7 linked regions of the Homo sapiens genome follow. The protein of the gene in region 6 purifies or fractionates together with the protein of the main gene of each other region. This does not show direct contact. Each region holds a gene or a part of one and is shown on either strand. Other genes may lie near its edges. The genes, in order: RBM28, CEBPZ, UTP23, BMS1, APOBEC3C, ZBTB48 and MAK16.

Region 1 (3,500 bases), on a different chromosome or scaffold from region 6:
GCAAAATTTCTGTTCATTGATAAAAAGGTTAAGGGTTAAAAGGAGTAGGCAGTGACTAGGAGCTTTATTTTAAGACCAGCATTCCCTGAATTGGCAGTTTCTTTGTCTCCACTGGTTCCATTATTGTCTGTGATGACTAGGGGTCATTTACAGAGGTAGGGTTTTTAAAAGGAGAGCCTTTCTGATGCCACTTTTCTGCTTGACAGGCCGGACAGTGGCTGTGGATTGGGCCGTGGCAAAGGATAAATATAAAGATACACAGTCTGTTTCTGCTATAGGTAAGATGTGGTAGTGTTGGGTGAGTAGGGGCGTTGTATAACCTGGGTGAGAGTATTGAAACAACTCCTGTGTTCATGATAAAAGTGTAAGAAAAAGGCTGGGTGCAGTGGCTCTTGCCTGTAATTCCAGCACTTTGGGTGGATTGCTTGCAGTCAGGAGTTTGAGACCAGCCTGGCCAACATGCAAAACCCCATCTCTACTAAAAATACAAAAATTAGCTGGGCTTGGTGGTGGGCGCCTGTCATCCCACCTGCTTGGGAGGCTGAGGCAGGTTCTTGAACCTGGGAGGCAGAGGTTGCAGTGAGCCGAGATCACCCCACTGCACTCCAGCCTGGGCAACAAAACGAGACTTCGTCTCAAAAAAAAAGTGTAAGAGAACCTGCTTATCAGAGTAAGACTATTGTGGAAGATTAACCAAAAGAATGAGACTGGGCTTTCAGGGAAAACTCTGAATTCCTGCTGGCTCAGAAGTGAGTCCAGGTCTGTTTGTCAATTCATATTGTACCATTTGGTGCTCTGGTCCCAAAACCTAGGCTCTTTTGAGTCTAAGCCCCTTCCTGGGAGTGGCTGTGAGTGAGCCTGAGTTCACTGTCCCCTTTACTTGCTGTTGTTTCCAGGCTGTGCATAATAGGAGTGATGGAACATTAAGAATAGAGAAACTTAAAACTTGAGGTTTATTTAGAAAACAATTGGCTGGTAAGCCACCAGGGTCTCAGAGAATAGAACGCACTGAGATTAAAGTTCATGGCTTGGCTTTGCCCCCTAGTGAGCATTTTGCTGGCTATGATGTACGAATGGTAGACTGCTTGGAGAGGCTCAGTTGCCACTTCTTTCAGTCTGGGCCAGATGAACCTTCAGACTGATGAATGGGACAAACTCTAAAGGAATCTGGGTGTTGAGAGTTTTGTTTATTTCTGTTTTTGCTTTTTCTTTTCTTTATACTTTCTCCTGTTATATGCAGTAAGAAAAATATACGAAATTCTGTAAAACCGATGAAACCAAGAACTTGGAGTATTGGTTACTTTTGTTAAAATAACATTGTTTTGGATATTAAATGAATTCCTCCTTTCTTTACCTCCCTCCATAGGTGAGGAAAAGAGCCATGAATCTAAACATCAGGAATCAGTTAAAAAGAAGGGCAGAGAGGAAGAGGATATGGAAGAGGAAGAAAACGATGATGATGACGATGATGATGATGAAGAAGATGGGGTTTTTGATGATGAAGATGAAGAGGAAGAGAATATAGAATCAAAGGTGACCAAGCCTGTGCAAATTCAGAAGAGGTAAGCAGCTCATCCTGTTCTGAGACAGCAGAGGAAGATTCAAGATTGTCTCCGAGAGGAAAAATTCTCCTTTTTCTGCCTGCATCATTGCAGAATTGACATGTGTAATGAAATTGAATAGGCCCTCTGTCAGCCCACCTCCTTAGTTCTGATCTGTGCCATTGCAGAGCAGTCAAGAGACCAGCCCCTGCAAAAAGCAGTGATCATTCTGAGGAGGACAGTGACCTAGAGGAAAGCGATAGTATTGATGATGGAGAGGAACTGGCTCAGAGTGATACCAGCACTGAGGAGCAAGAGGATAAAGGTTTGTTTGGATTTTCATAAATGTCTTTAGACTTTAAAAAAGTTACTGAAGTTACGGAAATGAGCATCAGTTCTGCTTAGATCTCTTTTTAAATAGGACTCTAAGGTGTTCTATCAAATTTATGTTTAAATGCTGAAAAGGAAACCTTTATACTCCTTTCTTCCAAAGGTTTTTTTGTTGTTTCCTTTTTGTTTGTTTTGTTTTTTAAGTGAGTTTTGGAGTGGTGTTTGAGGGTTAAGATTCTTAGGGAATTGAAAACCTAGCTTAATGCTGAGGTTCTACCTCTCTCTGGATTGTCCAACTTGATAGAATAACCAGGTAAACAGCATCTTATACAGATAATATAGATGAAACAGATGATATAACCATCTCAACATCAAGCTAGATTTTAAACAACTCCTTGGAGTTGAGATGGGGATAAAGAACTGTTTAGTCAGTTTGGACTGACATAACAAAATACCATAAACTGGGTGGCTTAAACAGCAGAAACTTATTTTCTCACAGCTCTAGAGGCTAGAAGTCCCAGGTGCCAGCTGATTCATTTTGGGTGCAGCTCTCTTCCTAGCTTGCAGACTGCTGCCTTCTCGCTATGTGCTTGCATGGCCTTTTCTTTGTGGCTTGACGAGGGGAGAGAGAGAACAAGTAACAGTGAACTCTGGTCTCTCTTTTCTTATAAGCACAGCAATCCTATCAGATTAGGGCCCAACCTTAAGACCTCATTTAGCTAGCCTCAGTTACCTCCCTAAAGTCTCTGTCTCCAAATACAATTATATTTGGGGTTAGGGCTTCAATGTATGAATTTTGGGGGAACACAGTGCGTTCCATAACAAGGACCTCTTTGAACATGTTGTAAAACTTTAGCCAATCCTTATTGCTACCTTTATTGAGAATAAATTCAACTTGTTTATTGAGGAAGGCAGGTCATTACAGAATGAGAAATGGCTAATAACTGGTTCTTTGATTTGTCTGGGTGGAGATTTTTATTTCAGCTGTTTTTATTCTGATTCCATTTCAGTAAGTCTGACATGTTGGTTTGACCATATAAGAAATCTGAGGAAATAAGCTTTTTCTGTGAGGAGAGAATGGTATACACCTTAGAATCAAAGAAGCTTCTACACTGAAGGGACTCTGAGATCCTGTATTCTACAACCCACAGTCAGCTGTCTCATGCCATTCTTTCACCTAAAAAACTTATAGGACAGATAAATGATAATGATAAAAAGTTAAAACACAACACAGAAGAGTGTAATACACAAAGTAGAAGTTTCTCACCAATCCTAACAATTCCCTGAAGTAATCACTGTTGTTTCTTGTGCATCCTTCCAGATATTTTCTTTGTATGTATAAGCTTATATGTCTGTTCTTGAAAACAAACAGTGAGTCTCCCTTATACCCAGATCCTCAGCTTCTTAGGGAACTTCCCCAGAGACAACCAAGGTTATTTGTTTCTTGTGTATCTATAGATATTTTAATACATTTATAAGCAAAATGCACACATATACACACACATATACACATTCAAAATGTAGTGTATTTTATAATTTGTGTGTGATTGTATGTGTATGTTTTTTCCTCAAAGTTTCCTATGTCCTATACAGTATTTCCAGAAAGTTTACACTGTCATAGTAGTATAT
Region 2 (3,500 bases), on a different chromosome or scaffold from region 6:
AATTTGCTAATAAGCAATTTAAAAACAATAAGACTGGAAAATATTACTCCAAGATATGCTAAAATCTTTATTCTGATGGTAAGGCACTATACTGCTATTCCATGTGGGTTTTGTAATTCCACTAGCATAGGCTTGAGGACAGACTGAGAAAAAGACTCTAAGAATTGGCACAGTTCTAATATTTTGTGCAAGTACAAAATTTTCTAAATAGCTTCATTAATAAGACCAAATAATATAAAACCCCTTAAAACAAGAAACTTCTGCTGTGGTTCAGAATAAGTAAGAAGAATGTTGGGCAGGCATGTGCATGCTGGAGGTATGTGAAAGGACAGAAAGGTCAGACAACAGTCTAGAGACAATTCTGGGTGTTCCTTGCTAATTTACAAGATAAAATATTCACCTTCATCTATGCTGGGCTATGATGAATACTGATTAACTTTTATAAACTGCTAATTACTATCAAAAAATGGCAGCATTTCAGCTCAACATGTATTGTACAGAGAAGCTAGCTGCTGGTTAAAGTAAAAGTCCAAAGCTCAAAAAGCTGCTTAAAAGAAAACACACATAACACACAATAAAAACCCTTCAGCTCCAAACGAGAAGGGAAAAGGTCCTTTTAAGTTTCTGGCTGACATGAGTATTAATTTGAATACAGGGCTATATTAAAAACCTTTAGCAGAAAAACAAACTTAAGGCTAAGGAAGTGAGGAAGACACAGTTTATGTCTTATTTTAAAAAATGCTTACCTGGAACGCTCTCACTTTCATCATCTAACACATCCATGAATGTTCCTCCATCTTCATCAACTTCAGCAAATTCTTCATCATCCATACTTCCTAAAGAAACTTCATCGTCATCCAGGTTACCAAGTTCATCATCACTACCTTCTGAATCTTCATCTAATGTGTTATCCTTAGCTCCTTTTGTTCTCTTTTTCACGTTTCTGGAAAAAAACACAACTTGTAATACAAGAGGAGGCAGTATTTTCTAAAGTAGTGTTTTGCTGACTACTAGGGCAGTAGGCTATTAAATGACTCAGAAGGAGAAAGCTTTGCAGACTGCTCAGAGTAAATAATAACGTGCTTTATAAATGTCAAAGATGAAAGTACTGTATCCACTTCCCAAACTTACTTGACTACATTTCCCCTTTATCATATAGTTCTGTGGTCTACTGTTCTGAGGGACAACAATTTGGGAAATGCTAGAAAAATAGGAAGGAGAAGATAGAAGTATGTTACCCAGCAAAATCCATATCATCCTTTCCAGAGCTGAAACAGTTATCATCTTCAAATGTGTCTGCCAGACAATACAGAAATGTGAGATACAACAAAGAATGACAAGCTTGACATATATCTTGTATCTGAATCAATTATTCTAAGTCATGATTCTGCTGTTTATGACAAGTGAACACCAAAACAATGTAAATGTTACTGTTGCTAGTGTGCCTTAATAATGTATACAAACCTGTGAAATACTGATCTTAGTTAAATCCCAAAACTAAAGAAGGATCCAGTTAATTTCGGCTCTTTCTACAGTTCTTTTATGGAAAGAGGATAAATATCAAATAAAATGATATTTAGCAATTGTCGTCCTTTTTACTCTATTAGAACTACTTAAGTGCTCATTTTTAATAGGTGTGATACAATATGTAACATCTCATGCTTGTAATTCCAGCACTTTGGGAGGCCGAGGTGGAGTGATCATCAGCCTGGGCAACACGGCAAGACCCTATCTCTATTAAAAAAAAAAAAAAAACAAAAACAACAACAACAAAAAAAAAAACAAAAAAAAAACGAGCCGGACATCATGGCATGTACCTGTAGTCCCAGCTACCCGTGGGGCTGAGGCAGGAAAATCGCCTGAGCCCAGAAGGTCTAGGCTGCAGGGCTGCAGTGAGTTGGGATTGTGCCACTGCACTCCAGCCTGGGAGACAGAGAGAGCCTGTCTCAAAACAAACAAACAAACCCCCCAAAAAACAACAACAAAAAAATATGTAACGTGAAATCAGTGTAAGTCTTTCCAATTTACCATGTTTTTTGTTTAAGTCTATTAAGTTTCAATCAAAATTTCTGTAGCTCTGTGGATTAAAGATAAAAAAGATCAAACAGTAGACTATTGCTATCAATTAGTACTGATATACTATAATAGATTATGAATAGTAAAAAGGATTTCTTTTTCACATGAGATTTGGCTGTAACAATTGAATAGACTTAAGCAAATATAAATGTTTTCTTATATAGACTATCCAAAGCACAAATCATGTATTTTTCTGGTGCAAATGTGGGTGAATTACCATATATCATAAAAATATTTGTTTCTTTTGTTTTTTTTTTGAGACAGGATTTCACTCTGTCACCCAGGCTAGAGTGCAGTGCCGTAATCTTGGCTCACGGCAACCTCTGACTCCTGGATTCAAGCGATTCTCGTGCCTCTGCTTCTCGAGTAGCTGGGACTACAGGTGCGTGCCACCATGCCCAGCTCATTTTTTGGGGTTTTTAGTAGAGACAGGGTTTCACCATATTGGCCAGGCTGGTCTCGAACTCCTGACCTCAAACAATCTTCCTGCCTCGGCCTGCCAAAGTGCTGGGATTACAGGTGTGAGCCACAGCGCCTGGCCCCAAATATTTCTTAATCTTCCACTGTGATTTGCATGATATTCTTAGCTAAGTGATTTTTTAAAACTAAGGCCACTTCTCCCACTAATGTTCCATGGTCTATTAACACATAGTAGTAGATTATTTTACAAAGAGTCAACAAAACAAATTACCAATCAGCTCTTCAAATTCTTCATCATCCACGTCTTCTATACTTTCTTCATCTGCATCCCGTTTTTGTTTCTCTTTAACAGCAACTTTTTTATAATACCTATAATATTCATGTTATATATTTGACAATTTTATTAAAGGTCTAATCTTACTATATATCATCAAAGCACCTATGACCAGTGGCAAACCACAACTGTAAAATCTTAAGTATACTCAATTGGAAATAAATGACTGAAATTTGTATCTAATATACAAAAAATAGTTTAACTCAATAAAAAGTAGCTGGAATCTTTTAAGTGTAATACATTTCAAAGATAATATTTTATCAGCCCTATTCTTATATTAGAATACAGCAAAACTTAGCCATTTACAGATGTAATCAAACCCTCAAAATTATTCATTCTAAATGATTTTAAAAAACAAGCCAAATCAAACCTAATTAACCAGTCAACCAGATGAGATAAGAGGTACTTTACTACCCTAAGGCATTAGGTTATGATACTAGTTGGTTTAGGACTTATTTCTATAACAGTGCACTGAATCCATTCTAAGGGCCATGGTCTGGATAAATTACCCATGAGTTATCACTATATTAAACTTAAAGTATTATATTAAAATCTATATTAAAGGTAGATTTTAAGCCTATAAAGAAAATTATTATAAAAGGAAATTAAAGGCTAAATTCCAAAAAGAAGCATAAAACAAAATTTATATGCTAAATTAACAAAACTCCCA
Region 3 (2,831 bases), on a different chromosome or scaffold from region 6:
GTAGTGCAGTGACATGATCAAGACTCACTACAATGTCAACCTCCCAGGCTCAAGTGATCCTCCCACCTCACCCTCCCATGTAGTTAGGACCACAGGCACATGCCACCACACCTGGCAATTTTTCGATTATTTGTAGAGATGAGATCTCCCTATGTTGCCAAGGCTGGTCTCAAACTCCTGTGCTCAAGTGATCCTACTACCTTGGCCTACCAAAATGTTGGGATTACAGACATAAGCCACCACACTTGGCCTTCATTTTCATTCATTCAACAAATATGTATTGACACATTCTACTCAGTACAAATTCGTGTATTATACATTCTATATTCTTATATGGAATATATATTTTTATAGAATATATTAAATGGAATATATAGAATATATCCTTATATGGAATATATAGACTATATTCCTGTATGGAATATAGGTATGGGGATAGTATTCACAAAACAAAAACAAAAACAAAAAAAAACAAAAACTGAAGTACAAGGAGATGAGACTTTTGTTAAAATATCTTTTAATTTTACCGGCAAAATACATCAATGACTAATATATTCCCGTATGGAATATATTCTTATTGGAATATATTCTTATATAGAATATATAGACTATGTATATATACATATGTGTATATACCTATATACATATATATATCTTGGAGATATAAAACTAATTGGGAATAATGTCATATATATAGATAGTAAGCAAACATTTTTTAAAACATTTTAAAGACTCCAAACTATTCATTTCTATCCACCTATAAAAAACTAGCAATTAAACCTGTCAAATCACAGCCATCTTGCTTTACGCAGATTCAGAAACATGAGATCCTTTTACCTTTGAAACTCTAGTTTCAAAGCTGTTCTAAAGTGACTTGGTTTTAATTTATATACTTGCAGGGATAAGAAGTAGCTGTAGGGCCATAAAAATGTAAAGAATACAGTATCGTGCCCATACACAACTGCAAACACTTATTTTTAAGTGTTCGTAAAAGATAGTGGTCTTCAGAAACACCCCTTTTCAGATTGGCAAACTTTCAGAGTTCAAAAGTGCATGTATTACACTTTTATCCCCAACAAAGCTAGTAGCTACCCTCTAAAGCAGAGGTTAACATTTTCTTTTTCCAAACCACAGAATGGATTATGATCCCATGTGCATACTCCCATGGTTCCCTTCCCCAAGTTGTATGAAAAAATAAAGCAAATAATTCTGAGGTTTTAGGGGTAGTGGTATAGGGATAGTATTCACACACAAAAAAACTGAAGTACAAGGATATGAGACTTTTGTTAAAATATCTTTTAAAGTAATTTTACTGGCAAAATACATAAATGATTAACCAGTTTTAAAATAGTAAACTTATTTATTTATTTATTTTTGAGACGGGGTTTCACTCTCTCACCAGGCTGGAGTGCAGTGGCATGATCTTGGCTCACTGCAACCTCCGCCTCCTGGGTTCAAGCGATTCTCCTGCCTCAGCCTCCCGAGTAGCTGGGACTACAGGCGCACACCACCACACCCAGCTAATTTTTGTATTTTTAGTACAGACAGGGTTTCACCATGTTGGCCAGGATGGTCTTGATCTCTTAATTTTGTGATCTGCCAGCCTCGGCCTCCCAAAGTGCTGGGATTACAGGTGTGAGCCACCATGCCCTGTCAAAATATTAAACTTACTAATACATTGTAATTTTTAGTACTTCTATAATTACTGCTTCATAAAAAAGTGGATTTTTCCAGCTCTCCAGTTCAGATGCTATTAACAGGTAATCAGATAGCACTGACTAAGTAGAAATAGATTAAGAGTAATACCTAAATTTAATGTATTTTAGCATATTGAAATGAGTATCATCAGTGTATATTTCATTTATCACTTTGTCTACACTTTATTAGGTGGCCTTAATGCTTGTCATTGACAAATGTTAACTTTCCTCACAAAACCTACACTATTCACTTTTTTCCAGTATTTTTACCTTCCTTATTAAAAATGTTTCTACCATCAAGAATTTAAAATAGAATCATGACATTGCAATCCAAACACTACCTTGGCTTGCCAGATTAGTCTACGTGTCACTCCTTGGTGTAAAGCTATAATTCCAACTTCCAGCAAAGAAGTATCTCTGAATTCAAATGAGAATGACATTTCTATGGGAATAAATGTGAACTGTCTCACATTTAACCATTAAGAATTTACTCATACGTCATCATGATAACCTAATGTTAGACTGAGAATCACTGCTCTAGTGTGGCTCCAGAAGCTGTCAGTCAGGAACTACTGATACGATTTCACTTGTCCAATAATTTTATACTTCCATCTTGTAGTACAAAAACATTTTAATTTTGGCCTGATAAATGACTAAAACAATTGCCGGGGGAATTCAGAGAGACACGTTTCATTATTCAATTCCTAACTGAATTGACCCTCATTGATCCTCAGACTAATTTAGACACTTTTCAATAACATTCACAGTCAATCTCAAAGAGAATATTATTTTTGAATTCTTGCTATTGAAGTTAACATTTACATCTAAAAGAAAATCATCATCCTTATTGGACAAGTAGAACTCAAACAAACAAACAAAAAAACTCTAGTCATAATAATGAAAATACTGAGTTTCTGATGTACAAAGAGTAAAATATTCATATACTGGAAAAATGGTGCAGTATAAATGGGCAAAATTTCACTCTTTCTAGTAGGAAGTCAATAAATAATTGATGTATCAAAAAGTAGCGGTATAATCATACAATTTGGAAATATAAATTCTTCAACTACTAGAATTGAAAGAGGAAGTTTCTTCTGTCAATGTGAAAGAGGGACTGCCTCTTTTTTTGTCACA
Region 4 (3,500 bases), on a different chromosome or scaffold from region 6:
AGAGGTCAGAGAAGAGGGGATTCAGTAACACCTTTGCAGGCCTACACATAGGTGGCTTACTTTTAAAACCTCCAGCAAGGCCATCTTCCCTTGTTTGGTCATTTTTCAGTTTTCCTGAGAAATGAAGCCATCCCAAGAATCCTATGTGTAATTCTAGTATGTTCTACAACAAGAGAATACCTGGCATGTGAATTTGGCTTTTATTTTTCAAGTGTGCTCCTCTTAAATAACCATAAAGTGACACCTTCCGGTCACATTTGATGTTTGTTCGGATATCCTCTGGGTTTGTCAAATCTTCCATCCTAGAAAAATAAATTCAATCACAGCAGAAATGAATGCCAAAAGTTCCTATACCTCCTTTCATGTGTCAATGATTCATCACACTCTTGTCCATTAAGCACGTCATTTAGAAAACTAGAAAATGCAGAAATAAGGAGGCACCATTCACCATCCACCAGAGGAAAAGGGGCAGACACACAACTGTGTCTCTAGGCTGAAAGTGATATTCATTCCATAAGACACCAGACAGGGAGATGACGTCCACCTGGGGTCGGGGAAGAGTGAAGAACATATTCAGAAAATCCCTTTCTGGAAGAGGGCGAGCCTGTGCTCTGGGATTTTTACTGTGGCTTGGATTCTGGCAGGTGGAAAAAGGGAATTCCAGGCTGAGAAAACCACACGAGGAAGAGCACAAAGGAAGGAAACAGAAGGCACACACGAAGGACTCAAGCACCCGGGCATGAAGGCAGCATCACTGAAAACTGAGGCTGAACGTAGGATGGGGCCACATCCTGTAGCCTTAAATACTTCCAAGTTCTCCCATTTTCCTTAACATCTCATAATTAATTTACTCCCAAAGGCACGGCATCTTTGAGCAATGATATAAGTAGACATTTTCCATCAACTACACTTCTATCCCCCCTATTCAAATCGGCACAAAATAAATCCTATCACTGTTCTTTTTCTAGCCTTTTTAGCTTTGAAATATATGGCCCAGGAAGAAAAAGCTTAAAATCATATTTTACCTGTCTGCCAGGATATAAGGGTGAGAAGTTTGCCATGTGAGAGGCCTAAACTTCATAACTGTAATAAAACGGCCCAGATTGTGGATTTCTTGGTTTTGATATTCTCCATGCACCATTCCAGAAAGGTAGAACAGCTTGGCACCCTAAACATTAGAGGAAAATTAAAAATTAAATTTCAATTAAATTATCATCAATACTGCAACAAAATAAAAGCTCTAAACAAGAAGCAATCCTAAGAAGGGAGACTTCCAGCAAAGCCACTGTCCTGAGGCTTCCAGAGCCTTGCTGGCTTCTTTCAGGATTTATTAGAACCCCACAGAGGCAGACTGCTCTGCAGCCGAGCCGGGGCATCCATCTAAGTATGGTGAGGAGAGGGAGGTGAGGCGTCTGAGCACAGAAACGGTTCTGTGGCCAATGGTCCAGAGCAGTATAGAAAGGAAGGGGCAGTGCCTGGTCCTGTAACTGGGAGAAACTTCCGAGGTACTCTATTAAGTCCTGACCCCAAAACAGCCAGACACTGCCTGGTGCAGCAGGTACAGAGAGAGACAAATGAGATACACCAAGAGGCCCCAAACAAGCACTCTTTTGAGGGAAACCTTCCAGAAAACTGAACACACACACAAAGGAATTCAGCAGGCCAAAGACTGAACACATACACAAAGGGAATTCAGCAGGCCAGAGACTGTGAACACACACACAAAGGAATTCAGCAGGCCAGAGACTGTGAACACACACACAAAAGAATTCAGCAGGCCAGAGGCTGAACACATACACAAAGGAATTCAGCAGTCCATAGACTGTGAACACACACACAAAGGAATTCAGGAGGCCAGGGACTGTGAATACACACACAAAGGAAATTCAGGAGGCGAATCCTAGAGAGACGTTTAGTAATGTCTCTTTAGTATTTTTTTTTTTTGAGACAAGCGTCTCACTGTGTCACCCAGGCTGGAGTGCAGTGGCGTGATCTCAGCTCACTGCACCCTCTGCCTCCTAGGTTCAAGCAATTCTCACTTCTCAGCCTCCTGAGTAGCTGGGATTACAGGCGCACGCCACCACACCGGACTAATTTTTGCATTTTTAGTACAGATGGGGTTTGGTCATGTTGCCCTGAGCTCAAAACTCTAGGCTCAAGTGATCCGACCGCCTCTGCCTTGCAAAGTGCTGGGATTACAGGTGTTAGCCACTGCACCCGGCCTCTTCAGTCTATTTTAAAAGGATTATACTGTTAGTATCCAACAATTATTTCTCTTCGTACCGGGTAAACTTCCGTCCAGAACCTGTGTTTTAATCGCTTCTTTGTCTTCTTCAGTTGCTTATTATGCTTGAAGGAGTCGAGGTGGGTGAGAACTCCCATAATTTTAGGAAAGCCATGTACTTGACAGATGTTTAGAAACTCAAACGTTTCCATTTCAAACCCAAAGCTGGCATCTATAAGCATCAGTACCTAAAAGCAGAACACATAATTTCTCAAAGAAACTACCAAAACAGACCACCTACACTAAGGGTTGGCAACTGGCCACGGGCAAAATCCAGCCCATCACCTGTGTTTGTAACTAAAGTTTTATTGGAACATAGCCACATTAATTCATTTACATATTGTCTATGGCTGCCTGTGCACTACAACTGCAGAGCTAAGTAGCTGCAGAAGATATGATCCACAAAGCCAAAAATATCTACTACCTGGCCCTGGACGGAAAAGTTGCACTCCAGACTAAATCAAATGACTACACAGGCATCACCCAGACAGAGAAACCACCACCCTCTGACTTGCTCTAAAAGCCAACCCATAAGACAATGTCCACTAGGATATAAACTTCCATTATAAGAATTTTAATGTATGAGAAGTAACTCAGAAAAGGCTGGGTCTAACCTGGCCCTTACCTAAGAAATCCTAATTTAAAGAAATCAAGTTTTCTGTAAGGTATTTTTAAGCCAAATAACAGGTCTCTGGCATCCAAAGAATGGGAAGAGAGTCATAATCAATGAAATACATTAAATATGTACAGAAAACCAACCTCTTCTTTCAATCGCCTCATAGAAAAAAAAACCACAATCTGTTTTTTGTTGAGAAGTATGCAGTGGAAACCTCTATCTTATATGTTAATTTGGATAACTCAATTGCTCAGAAATTTTTTTTAAATAGCTACCAGTTTAGAATTAGGTAAAAAAAAAAACAGTAAGATTACGATGAATGGTAGTCTATAAGAAAATATAAGCAGATGAGACCAATTTTTAAAATTTAAGATGCTTCAAAGATGCAAAATAATTTCAGAATTGATTCCTGGAAATTTCTAGTTTAAGTATTAAAAACATTTCTGTTCTTATCTTTGCATAGATAACTAAAAATAACAAAAAAAATGGAAACAGAAATGCCCATCTTTGATTAAACTAGGAAACATTCAAAATCCGAAACCACAGAATATATGAAGGTGGGCTTGTGAGAAAGCACAGCTGCTACTGTGGACTGAGGCA
Region 5 (3,596 bases), on a different chromosome or scaffold from region 6:
AAGAGAGAAGGAGAAGGATAGAAGAAGGGAAACTCAATGAATAAAACACCCTGGGGCCTACTATGTAGCCAGAAAAATGAAAAGTAAAGAAATAAAATAAGGCTGTGCATGTGGTTTATGCTCATAGTCCCAGAGCTTTGGGAGGGTGAGGCAGGAGGATCGCTTGAGCCCAAGAGTTCAAGATCAGCCTGGGCAACATGGTGAAACCCCGTCTCTAAAAAAATTATTTAAAAAATTAGGCAGGTGTGGCGGCATGCACCTGCATCCCAGCTTATCAGGAGGCTGAGGTGGGAAGATTCCTTGAGCCTGGGAGGTCAAGGCTGCAGTCAGCCCAGATCCCACCACTGCACCCCCTAACCTGTGCACCAGAGAGAGACCCTGTCTCAAAAATGAGTAAATAAGGAAACGGCCCGGGGCTCCAGGCCCGCCCTCTGCTCCCATCGCCCCACCCCTGCACTCCTCCTGCTCCTGGTCTGAGCTCCCCTGTCCTCCTCCTCCTCCTTCGCCAGGTGGATTCTGAGACCCATTGTCATGCAGAAAGGTGCTTCCTCTCTTGGTTCTGCGACGACATACTGTCTCCTAACACAAAGTACCAGGTCACCTGGTACACATCTTGGAGCCCTTGCCCAGACTGTGCAGGGGAGGTGGCCGAGTTCCTGGCCAGGCACAGCAACGTGAATCTCACCATCTTCACCGCCCGCCTCTACTACTTCCAGTATCCATGTTACCAGGAGGGGCTCCGCAGCCTGAGTCAGGAAGGGGTCGCTGTGGAGATCATGGACTATGAAGGTGAGACGTGGGGGGCTGAGGAGAGTGGGTGCAGGAGGGACAGCATGAGGGGCAGATGGTTCTCCAATGCTGTGGGGCGGGTCAGTGTCCCCTGGGTGTCTGTGGGGACCGGGCCAGCGCCCACTGCAACTGGCAGCCTGGATACCTGGGCTGGGAGGGGAGGGCCCAGGGCCAGGAGAGAGGCCTGCTGGGCCCTCACTGTTTTCTCCTTGTTTTTTCTCAGATTTTAAATATTGTTGGGAAAACTTTGTGTACAATGATAATGAGCCATTCAAGCCTTGGAAGGGATTAAAAACCAACTTTCGACTTCTGAAAAGAAGGCTACGGGAGAGTCTCCAGTGAGGGGTCTCCCTGGGCCTCATGGTCTGTCTCCTCTAGCCTCCTGCTCATGCTGCACGGGCCTCCCCTCCACCCTGGACCCGCTCTGTTTCTGCCTGGTCATCCTGAGCCCCTCCTGGCCTCAGGGCCATTCCACAGTGCTCCCCTGCCTCACCGCTTCCTCCTCGCTCTTCCAGACTCTTCCTGCAGAGGCTCCTTTCTGCCTCCATGGCTATCCATCCACCCCCACAGACCCCGTTCCTCCAGCCTGCGTGCCCCTAACCTGGCTTTTCCCATCTCCCCAGCATAACCAAATCTTACTAAACTCATCCTAGGCTGGGCATGGTGACTCACGCCTGTAATCCCCCAGCAATTTGGGAGGCAAAGGTGGGAGAATCGCGTGAGCCCAGGAGTTCCAGACCAGGCTGGGTCACATGACAAAGCCCCATCTCTACAAAAAAAAAAAAAAAAAAAAAAAAAAAGCCAGATGTGGTGGCATGCATCTGTAGTCCAAGCTACTTGGGAGGCTGAAGTGGGAGGATTACTTGAGCCCGAGAGGTGGAGGCTGGAGTGAACAGAGATCGCGCCACTGAACTCGGGTCTGGGCAACAGATAGAGACCCTGCCTGAAAATAAATCGATAAATAAACTCAACCTAAACAGGTGTGAATATATGTAAGTTGAAAACCCGAAGTTTTGAGAAACATCCTTTGTAAATTTCATCCTATGAATTGGGTCATTCATGTCCTACCCAGCTAAAACAGAGGCCAGGAGCCAGGGAGGAAAAGCAGTCAGGCCACACAACATTGTTTCCGAAATGGACTTCTCTGCAAGCCTGACTCCTGAGACTGTGCATTGTACCCTGAAACCAGCTTTATCCATAGCTTCTGCGATAAATGGCTGTAAGTCTTGGACTCCTTGCTCCAAACGCAGCGACTCAGCAATAGAACCTCCCAGCTCCCAGCCCTTCCTAGTGCCCATGGGCTTTACATAGGGCAAGAGAACATTTCTCCTTCTATAATTGCCATCTCTTTGCTCTCTCAACATGGTGAACACCATCCGGACTCCGTGTATGTCTCAAATTACAATTCTTTCTTTGCAAATGAAATATGAAATTTAGAGGCTCTTCTAAACACTTTAAATTTGATTTGACATTTTCAAAGCAGATGTAAGTTTTAGAGAATGAGATTCTCCATAAAAATGACCCTTTCATGCTGTGGCCTCCATAGAAGATGTCCCAGGCCAGGTGCCCACATGGCAGGCATTTATTTTCTCACAGATCTGGAAGCTGCAGGTCCAACTTCGAGGGGTGGGTGGGGTTGTTTCCTCTGAGGCCGCTCCTTCTGGCTGGCAGGGAGTCTCTTCCAGCCGTGTCCTCTGTGGCCTTTCCTCTATGCACACGCACCTCTGGGATCTCTCTGCCTCCAAATATCATCTTTTTTTTTTTTTTTTTTTTTTTTGAGACAGAGTGTTGCTCCTCTTGTCCAGGCTGGAATGCAATGGCACAATCTGGACTCACTGCAACCTCCGCCTCCCGAGTTTAAGCGATTCTTCTGCTTCAGCCTCCCGAGTAAAAGGCATGCATCACCACACCTGGTTAATTTTGTAGTTTTAGTAGAGATGGGGTCTCACCATGTTGGCCAGACTGGTCTCGAACTCCTGACCTCAGGTGATCCGCCTGTCTCAGCCTCTCCAAGTGCTGGGATTACAGGCATCAGCCACTATGCCCGGCTGGGATCATATGTTCCACACATGTTTGTTCAATAAGCATGGACTGCAACCACCTACATGAATATTCATAGCTCCTCCTGTAGCCTGTTGAATATGTATGTTTAGCCAACCTCTTCAGCATAAAGCTCCTGCCCAAACCCCTCCTGCTCCTAAATGTCTGTCTCTGGTGTTAACCAGAGGCTGCTCTTCCCAGGCTGCTGGATGGCTACCTTGCAGGCTGTCACCCTTAACAAGAAATAAAGTGTCCTTTGCAAATGCATCCCTTGTGTAATTTGTAGGTCACCGCGCCATGGGAACACGCTACCATGGGAAGGGAGCTGTGAGACGCGCAGGGAGGCTCCAGACAGGCTGGCCTGGGACACCAGCCGCTGCCCTTCCATAACATGGGGACAAGAGAGGGCAAAAGTTCAGCCCAACACGGAGGATCTTCGGGCAGGAGATGGGGAAGAAGGAGAAGCAGGAAGGAAAGAGCTCAGTGTGGGGGCGCGCATGGCATCCCGGTGGGACATCTGAGGCCCACACCCACCTGCTGTCCCTCCCTCCCACGGTGGCCACCGAGGGTGAAGGCCTGGGGGGAGGCAGACGCCTGGCCCTTTACTCTCCCTCCCTGTCCCCATGGCCGCTGGGTGGGGGCCGTCTCTGGGATGATCCCCGAGGGCAGGATCCGGGAGTCCCTGCAGAGGCATCAGCCTGTCTGTCTTGATGGTGGAGTGGCGGCTCCAGCTGGGCGGGACCACCAGGGGAGGGGCTTGTGCTCTG
Region 6 (3,394 bases):
CCCGCCGAAACCCAGGCCCACTCTTCCTAGAGGCCTGTCAGCAGCCACTAGGGCCAGGGACTGTGGGTGAGGCCACTCGGACCCTGCCCCCAGTCTGTCTGGGCCTGAGAAGGGCCTGGTGTGCGGTGGGCTTGCAGCACTCAGTGATGGTCAGGCCAGGCAGGTTATGTGTTGCCCTCTCCCACCCTAGCGTCCCCACCCTCCCCAGGCAGACTCTTCCCAGCAGCAAGCGGAAGCCCGGGCAGAGGCTGCTGTCATAGGCAGAGGCCCCCGCTGATGCCGGCCCTGCTTGCCCCTCACACTGCCAGGTCTTCACGTGCTCTGTGTGCCAGGAGACATTCCGCCGAAGGATGGAGCTGCGGGTGCACATGGTGTCTCACACAGGGGAGATGCCCTACAAGGTCAGGCTTGGCCTGTCTCCAGGGCCAGGGTTGGGTGGCCCCAGGATCCTTCCTGCTGAGCCCTTTACGTGGGGTGCTGTCAGGCACCTCCCTCACAGTAGCTGTCAGGGAGCCTGCCTTCCCTGCCTTCCCTGCCTTTCCAGTGCCCCCTTATCTAGGCAGGGCTACTGTCTGCAGCCTCACCTCCAAGGTCCTTATTAGGCCCTTGTTTCTTTCCATGGAGGACAGGCTTGGCATCCTCTGGGCAGCTGAGCCCTGAGGGCCCTCCTTTGCACCATCCTTCACACCAGATCAGGGGTCCTCCCAGAATCATCTCACCGGGGCCTCCCTCTAGTTCCTGCCCTATAGCCCAAGGGTGGGTGGCAGGGTTTCATGGGTGCAGGCCGCCCTGGAGGTGACTGTGGGCCTCTTTTTCAGTGTTCCTCCTGCTCCCAGCAGTTCATGCAGAAGAAGGACTTGCAGAGCCACATGATCAAACTTCATGGAGCCCCCAAGCCCCATGCAGTAAGTGACAGGGAGGGCTGGGCATGCTTTGATGCTGGCATGAGCAAGAGTGAGCTGTGCCCAGAGTGGGCAGCCGGCCATGTACTTTCTGTTGTTCGGGGGGGTGCTTGTGGGTCTCCCAGGCAGCCCTTCCCTGCTCTCACCCTGGCCCTGGTCCCTCCCTCTGCCTGCCTGGTCTGCCTGCAGTGCCCCACCTGTGCCAAGTGCTTCCTGTCTCGGACAGAGCTGCAGCTGCATGAAGCTTTCAAGCACCGTGGTGAGAAGCTGTTTGTGTGTGAGGAGTGTGGGCACCGGGCCTCGAGCCGGAATGGCCTGCAGATGCACATCAAGGCCAAGCACAGGTGCGTGTCGCCCGTTCTCTCTTGGGGCCCAGTCCTGCTGCCAGCCCAGGCTTGCACCGGCAGGGAAGACAGAGTTTGCTGACTTTTACACAGATGAGTGTGCCCTTGGCCTCCACCCTGAATCTAGTGCCTACAGCCTCTCTGGGATAGTGGGACCTGAGGGGCAAGCAGCTATGCCAGGCAGAGAGGCTGGGGGCAGATGTTTCAGGCTCAGACAAGCCTCTGTGCCCCCGGGGCAGATTCTGAGCTTCCTTAGTTTCCTGTGACTCCTGCTCATAGATTGTCCTTCTGCTCTCGGGGTGGAGGTGGTGCCCCTTTCCTAGCACTGCCCAAGCCCTCTTTCCACCAGGCATGCTCCTAGCTGTAGCAGAGCAAGGGGGTCACTTCCCTTGGTGATGGCCTCTGCCCCATGTCCCCACCTTAACAGGAATGAGAGGCCACACGTATGTGAGTTCTGCAGCCACGCCTTCACCCAAAAGGCCAATCTCAACATGCACCTGCGCACACACACGGGTGAGAAGCCCTTCCAGTGCCACCTCTGTGGCAAGACCTTCCGAACCCAAGGTGAGGTACGCCCTGCCCCTCCCCTCGCCTCCCCATCCTGAGGCCAAGGCCACAGGCTGAGCTCTTGCCTTGTGCCTGCAGCCAGCCTGGACAAGCACAACCGCACCCACACCGGGGAAAGGCCCTTCAGTTGCGAGTTCTGTGAACAGCGCTTCACTGAGAAGGGGCCCCTCCTGAGGCACGTGGCCAGCCGCCATCAGGAGGGCCGGCCCCACTTCTGCCAGATATGCGGCAAGACCTTCAAAGGTACCTGGGCGGCCCTGGGAGAGCCATTTCCTGCTCATCCGAGTTGGAGGGTCTCTGAGGAGGAAACGCTCCTTTCTTGCCTGTGAACCTCTTTTGTGCCCCACATGGTTAGAGTTGAGAGTGGACCTGCTTTGAAGGCAGGGGTGTCCTGTGCAGTAGTGACCCTGGGTGGCACTGGAGAGCCTGGCAGGGCCTGTGCAGCACTTGTAAACCACTGGTCCCCTCCCTTGCTGCCTGTCCCAACCTCCTGCTGGGTTTCCTCGAGGGTCCCGGGGCTCCTGCATGATCCCCCACGGTGTTCTCCCTCTTGCAGCCGTGGAGCAACTGCGTGTGCACGTCAGACGGCACAAGGGGGTGAGGAAGTTTGAGTGCACCGAGTGTGGCTACAAGTTTACCCGACAGGTAGGCCAGGGCCTGGGCCCCTTCCCCTACCCTAGGATCCCCCAAAGTTCTGAGCTCACCCTCCCCGCCAGGCCCACCTGCGGAGGCACATGGAGATCCACGACCGGGTAGAGAACTACAACCCGCGGCAGCGCAAGCTCCGCAACCTGATCATCGAGGACGAGAAGATGGTGGTGGTGGCGCTGCAGCCGCCTGCAGAGCTGGAGGTGGGCTCGGCGGAGGTCATTGTGGAGTCCCTGGCCCAGGGCGGCCTGGCCTCCCAGCTCCCCGGCCAGAGACTGTGTGCAGAGGAGAGCTTCACCGGCCCAGGTGTCCTGGAGCCCTCCCTCATCATCACAGCTGCTGTCCCCGAGGACTGTGACACATAGCCCATTCTGGCCACCAGAGCCCACTTGGCCCCACCCCTCAATAAACCGTGTGGCTTTGGACTCTCGTATTTCAGCCTGACAGTCTGTTCCCGTGTCCTGGAGTTGGGGAAGTGCTGCCTTCCCACCCACGCCTTCAGGAGAGAGTAGTGCCCTGCCCGGTCCTATGTGGGCCTCAGCTCAGCTGGCAGCTTCCCCTCCTGTCAGGAAACCTCAGCTGAGCGAGGCTTGGATGGGGTTCCTTTGGGGGCCAAACCTCTGGCCTTGGCTGCTCTCCACATCTGTATTCTGTTCCTCATTACTGCAGGATTTTAGAGTGGGGAACGCTGGCCAGTTAGAGCACCAGTATTCCTATTTTAGAGCTGAGGTGATACCGGCTTCTGGAGATAGAATTCATTACTAAGCTTCTGGAGTTCAGTAGAGTGATCAGGGCCCACGGGGCTGGCCTTGTTGGGCAGAATCAAGGATTGGGCCCAGTTAGTGTAGCTGAGCACGCCTGGGGGTCTGAGGAGGGTGGGGCCCTTCCTTCAAGCAGCCTGGTCTGTGTCCAGGAGGCTTTGGTCCCCACGTT
Region 7 (3,291 bases), on a different chromosome or scaffold from region 6:
ATTCTGCACCGTATTCTCTCACTTCCTTATAAATGTGCAAGGAATCCAGAGTAACATTTCCCCATGACAACCTTTCCCTTAGTCATATTGGTAACTAGGTTGCATTTGTTTACTATCTTTCTCCCTACGGAATTATAATCTCCAGGATAACGGAAAACCACATCTATTATATTCTCCCAAAGTATGTTCAGTACCTAGTATTAGGTATACAAATATTCAAAGAATGAATGGACTGGAAGAGAATGAATCAATGGATGAATAAAATCGAATCAGATTGTCAGGTCTTTAAAGAGCAGAGACCAAGATTCCAAGAAGGGAGAGTGAATAAATGTAGGGAGGTAGAAAAGGAATATGTGTGTATGCGTATGAGGGGGTGAAGCATGGGAAATGGAAAACAGAGCCGATTATAAGTTGAATAACGAGGGCTGAGAGGCACCCAAACCATAGGAAAATGAGGAGTATTTAGATAGAGATGAAAACTTTTTTCTCCCAGTCACGCATCTGTCCATAAATATGATTTATTGTACATTTCACATTGTATTTTCACATTGTAAGTTAAATTATTTTCCACCTTTCATTAAAGTTTTTTTAGGGTTTTTTGTTTATTGTGGTAAAAATACATATAAATTTTCCATTTTAAAGTGTACAGTTCAGTGGCATTAAGTACAGTCACAATATTGTGCAGTCACTAGCATTGTCCATTTCTGGAGCTTTACCAAGGCGATGAAAACTTTTAGAAAGGTTAATAGTTACAAGTAAGTAGGCTGGACTTCACTGATGATGAGCTAGGATCTGAAATTAAATGACAGAAAATTCAACTTGACACAGTCCCAGAAGCCAAGCTCATTTCCCTCACTCTAACTTCCAGGCCTAAGATGGCATTAAAGTTAAAGGATTCAGGGCTCTCTCCAAGCATAGTTCAGTTAATAGAGTTGAAAAATAAAAGTATAGGCCCTTGGTTGGGGAGATCCTGGTTTCCCCTTCTCAGCCCATGAAGGAGCTGTTGCTTACAGTAGAACCAAGCTTCTGGAAGGAAGAGAGCAGTGTGGCAGAGGGTGTGTCTGTGTGTATAGGCAGTATGCTAACAGGAGACTTGAGGGTAAGAAATCTAGAGGCTGTCTTTGGTTCTGTTTTTAGGTCTTTTTCATTTAACTTTGACCTAAGTTCCTTAATTTAGGAAATGATAGCTTTCCACTTGACAGTCTTTGAAGTCTCTTCCAATTTTAATATCCAGATTTAGAGTATGAACATAGCTTTTCTTCCTGATTCCAGAGTTTCCTGCAGACTTGTGGTCTTACTGAAGGCCCTCTTGAAACTGATTTGTGATGTAGCAAGGGATCCAAACCTTACACCTGAGTCTGTTAAGAGCGCCCTGCTACAGGAGGCCACAGACTGCCTGATTCTCCTGGACCGCTGTTCTCAAGGACGGGTAAAGGTAAGGCAGACTGAAACTTGGTTTCAGTTGGGCCTCATTATCCTTATGTAATTCCCATGATTGATTATAATTTACTATGTATGTGCCTGACCAAGTCTGGAAATGAACATGGAGGGTTTTAGATCTCCATATGAGCCCTCTAGCCTCAAAAGAGCTTGATCTTTTTTCTTATTCATCTTTTAAAGCTATTCAGAACCATTTAGAACTAAAGGCAGGAGGATCAGCACATGTCACTGGGGCTAAGGACGAGACAGTATGGGCAAAAGCATTATGATCAAAAGTTTGTAAAATTTAAGTTCTGTTCTAGTCTTCTGAATTAAAAAAAAAAAGTAAAAATAATGGGCTATAAGCTCCCAGGAATAATAACATAAATAGAGCATTTCAGATGTTTCCAGTTTTTTAGGGACAACCATCTTTTAGGTAGATGTTTTTCCCTATTCTTAATTTATCTACATGGAAATTCTTCCTTTGGTTTCATATTCCACAAAAGTTAACTTCTCAAAGCCACAGCATATAATAGCTGTGTACTTCTATGTATTTAATAAACTACTGCCTCATTTCTTACCCCTTTTAGAAATCTTTAGTTGAAGATTGAAGGTAGCATGAAAAGAAATTCATGCCATAAGTCACTGGACAATCTACCCAGCAGGAAAAAAAAATTCATATCCTAAAAATATGTAGAGATAGTATGAATTGTTATTTTACCAGTTTATTCAAACTATTTCATCTTAGCTCTTTAATCTTGGGCAGTTTTCAAGCCCTAGATCCAACTGAATTTGCCTTGGCTGGAATTCTGCTGTTTCATGAGCCAGCAGGAGATTTGCAAGTACATTAACACAGTTTTTAAAGTAGCACCTTCAATACATGAGAGCTATATAAATTTAAAAATAATAAAAAACCAACTAATACCTATTCTGCTTAGTGACCTGTCCCTAAGTGTCATCCATTCTTTCCTCCTTTGAATATGATACCAAGGAAGAAGAATCAAGCAAAAGGGGAAAGTAATTAAAAAAAAAAAAATATCAAAGCCTGTTTGGTTTCATGTTTCAGGGTCTCCTGGCCAAAATTCCCCAAAGCTGTGAAGACAGAAAAGTGGTGAACTATATCAGAAAAGTGCAGCAGGTTTCTGAAGGCGCACCCTACAATGGAACTTAAGACTTGTATTACTTTCCCAAGAGGAAAGGATTTTCTTCCCATCCCAATTTGTATGAATGGAGTTATTTAAGAAAAAAAGATATTTTTACACGAAACTTTGTAAGTGAAAGCTGCTTTTTCCTTCCTTCCTTTCCTTTTACCTCCATAAGAATAGGGAAAGTAGAACAAGAAAAAATTGAACTCCTTCCATTTCTAAATAAAGTTTGGGAGAAAAAAGGACACCAAGTAATGTAGCATTTAAAATTTAGAAATATTTACATCCGTCATCTCATCCCAGATTCAAGAACTCATCTGTTAAGTTTCTCGGGCACAAGCTGTTACTTCAACACATATGCTATAAAAACACTCTTGTTCACAACTTAGCTTTCTTCACTCACTCCAGATTTCTTGCCCCACTGACGTGGCATAAATAATAAAAACACAAATATTGTGTTCAGTACAACACAAAAGAGCAAAAACTGGAGGTGTGTATGTGTTTAAGATAAAAAAAAAAAAAAAACAGTTCTGCATGTTCAGTCCTGGGTATAAATGCTGAAAGGGAAATCACGTGGTTTTGGCTTTGGCCACGGGCTCTGTCTCCTGCTCGTATTCTATTTCCACATAGGCTCGTTTTCTCTGCAGTGGTCCTCTCAAGGGCATTTTGCCTTTGTGTTTCGCACTAAGGGCCTTTTCTTCCTCCTCCTCACTGGAGGATTTACCAT

What was found.
Region 1: the proteins of ZBTB48 (region 6) and RBM28 purify together in Homo sapiens (affinity purification with mass spectrometry; 2 studies listed by BioGRID and IntAct, with this or other methods). This does not show direct contact.
Region 2: the proteins of ZBTB48 (region 6) and CEBPZ purify together in Homo sapiens (affinity purification with mass spectrometry; 2 studies listed by BioGRID and IntAct, with this or other methods). This does not show direct contact.
Region 3: the proteins of ZBTB48 (region 6) and UTP23 purify together in Homo sapiens (affinity purification with mass spectrometry; 2 studies listed by BioGRID and IntAct, with this or other methods). This does not show direct contact.
Region 4: the proteins of ZBTB48 (region 6) and BMS1 purify together in Homo sapiens (affinity purification with mass spectrometry; 2 studies listed by BioGRID and IntAct, with this or other methods). This does not show direct contact.
Region 5: the proteins of ZBTB48 (region 6) and APOBEC3C purify together in Homo sapiens (affinity purification with mass spectrometry; 2 studies listed by BioGRID and IntAct, with this or other methods). This does not show direct contact.
Region 7: the proteins of ZBTB48 (region 6) and MAK16 purify together in Homo sapiens (affinity purification with mass spectrometry; 2 studies listed by BioGRID and IntAct, with this or other methods). This does not show direct contact.

Annotation. Positions count from the first base shown.
Region 1 is NC_000007.14:128,333,909-128,337,408, reverse strand, and holds part of RBM28 (RNA-binding protein 28), read left to right. Parts: intron 1-206; coding exon 207-278; intron 279-1,366; coding exon 1,367-1,562; intron 1,563-1,729; coding exon 1,730-1,866; intron 1,867-3,500. UniProt on the Homo sapiens protein: Nucleolar component of the spliceosomal ribonucleoprotein complexes.
Region 2 is NC_000002.12:37,211,097-37,214,596, forward strand, and holds part of CEBPZ (CCAAT/enhancer-binding protein zeta), read right to left. Parts: intron 2,866-3,500; coding exon 2,768-2,865; intron 2,459-2,767; exon of another isoform or gene 2,341-2,458; intron 1,584-2,340; exon of another isoform or gene 1,297-1,583; coding exon 1,239-1,296; exon of another isoform or gene 1,160-1,238; intron 944-1,159; coding exon 747-943; intron 79-746; exon of another isoform or gene 1-78. UniProt on the Homo sapiens protein: Stimulates transcription from the HSP70 promoter.
Region 3 is NC_000008.11:116,772,354-116,775,184, reverse strand, and holds the end of UTP23 (rRNA-processing protein UTP23 homolog), read right to left. Parts: 3' UTR 501-2,831; downstream 1-500. UniProt on the Homo sapiens protein: Involved in rRNA-processing and ribosome biogenesis.
Region 4 is NC_000010.11:42,789,295-42,792,794, reverse strand, and holds part of BMS1 (ribosome biogenesis protein BMS1 homolog), read right to left. Parts: intron 2,473-3,500; coding exon 2,284-2,472; intron 1,169-2,283; coding exon 1,026-1,168; intron 303-1,025; coding exon 181-302; intron 1-180. UniProt on the Homo sapiens protein: GTPase required for the synthesis of 40S ribosomal subunits and for processing of pre-ribosomal RNA (pre-rRNA) at sites A0, A1, and A2.
Region 5 is NC_000022.11:39,017,257-39,020,852, forward strand, and holds the end of APOBEC3C (DNA dC->dU-editing enzyme APOBEC-3C), read left to right. Parts: intron 1-509; coding exon 510-789; intron 790-1,012; coding exon 1,013-1,131; 3' UTR 1,132-3,096; downstream 3,097-3,596.
Region 6 is NC_000001.11:6,586,387-6,589,780, forward strand, and holds the end of ZBTB48 (zinc finger and BTB domain-containing protein 48), read left to right. Parts: intron 1-190; coding exon of another isoform or gene 191-277; exon of another isoform or gene 278-308; coding exon 309-401; intron 402-818; coding exon 819-905; intron 906-1,091; coding exon 1,092-1,246; intron 1,247-1,673; coding exon 1,674-1,810; intron 1,811-1,891; coding exon 1,892-2,056; intron 2,057-2,369; coding exon 2,370-2,458; intron 2,459-2,529; coding exon 2,530-2,826; 3' UTR 2,827-2,894; downstream 2,895-3,394. UniProt on the Homo sapiens protein: Plays a critical role in transcriptional regulation and chromatin remodeling. Acts as a regulator of telomere length. Directly binds the telomeric double-stranded 5'-TTAGGG-3' repeat.
Region 7 is NC_000008.11:33,498,472-33,501,762, reverse strand, and holds the end of MAK16 (protein MAK16 homolog), read right to left. Parts: coding exon 3,134-3,291; 3' UTR 2,591-3,133; coding exon of another isoform or gene 2,486-2,590; 3' UTR 1,436-2,485; coding exon of another isoform or gene 1,273-1,435; 3' UTR 501-1,272; downstream 1-500. Other genes in the region: TTI2 (TELO2-interacting protein 2), read left to right, coding at 1,273-1,435, 2,486-2,590.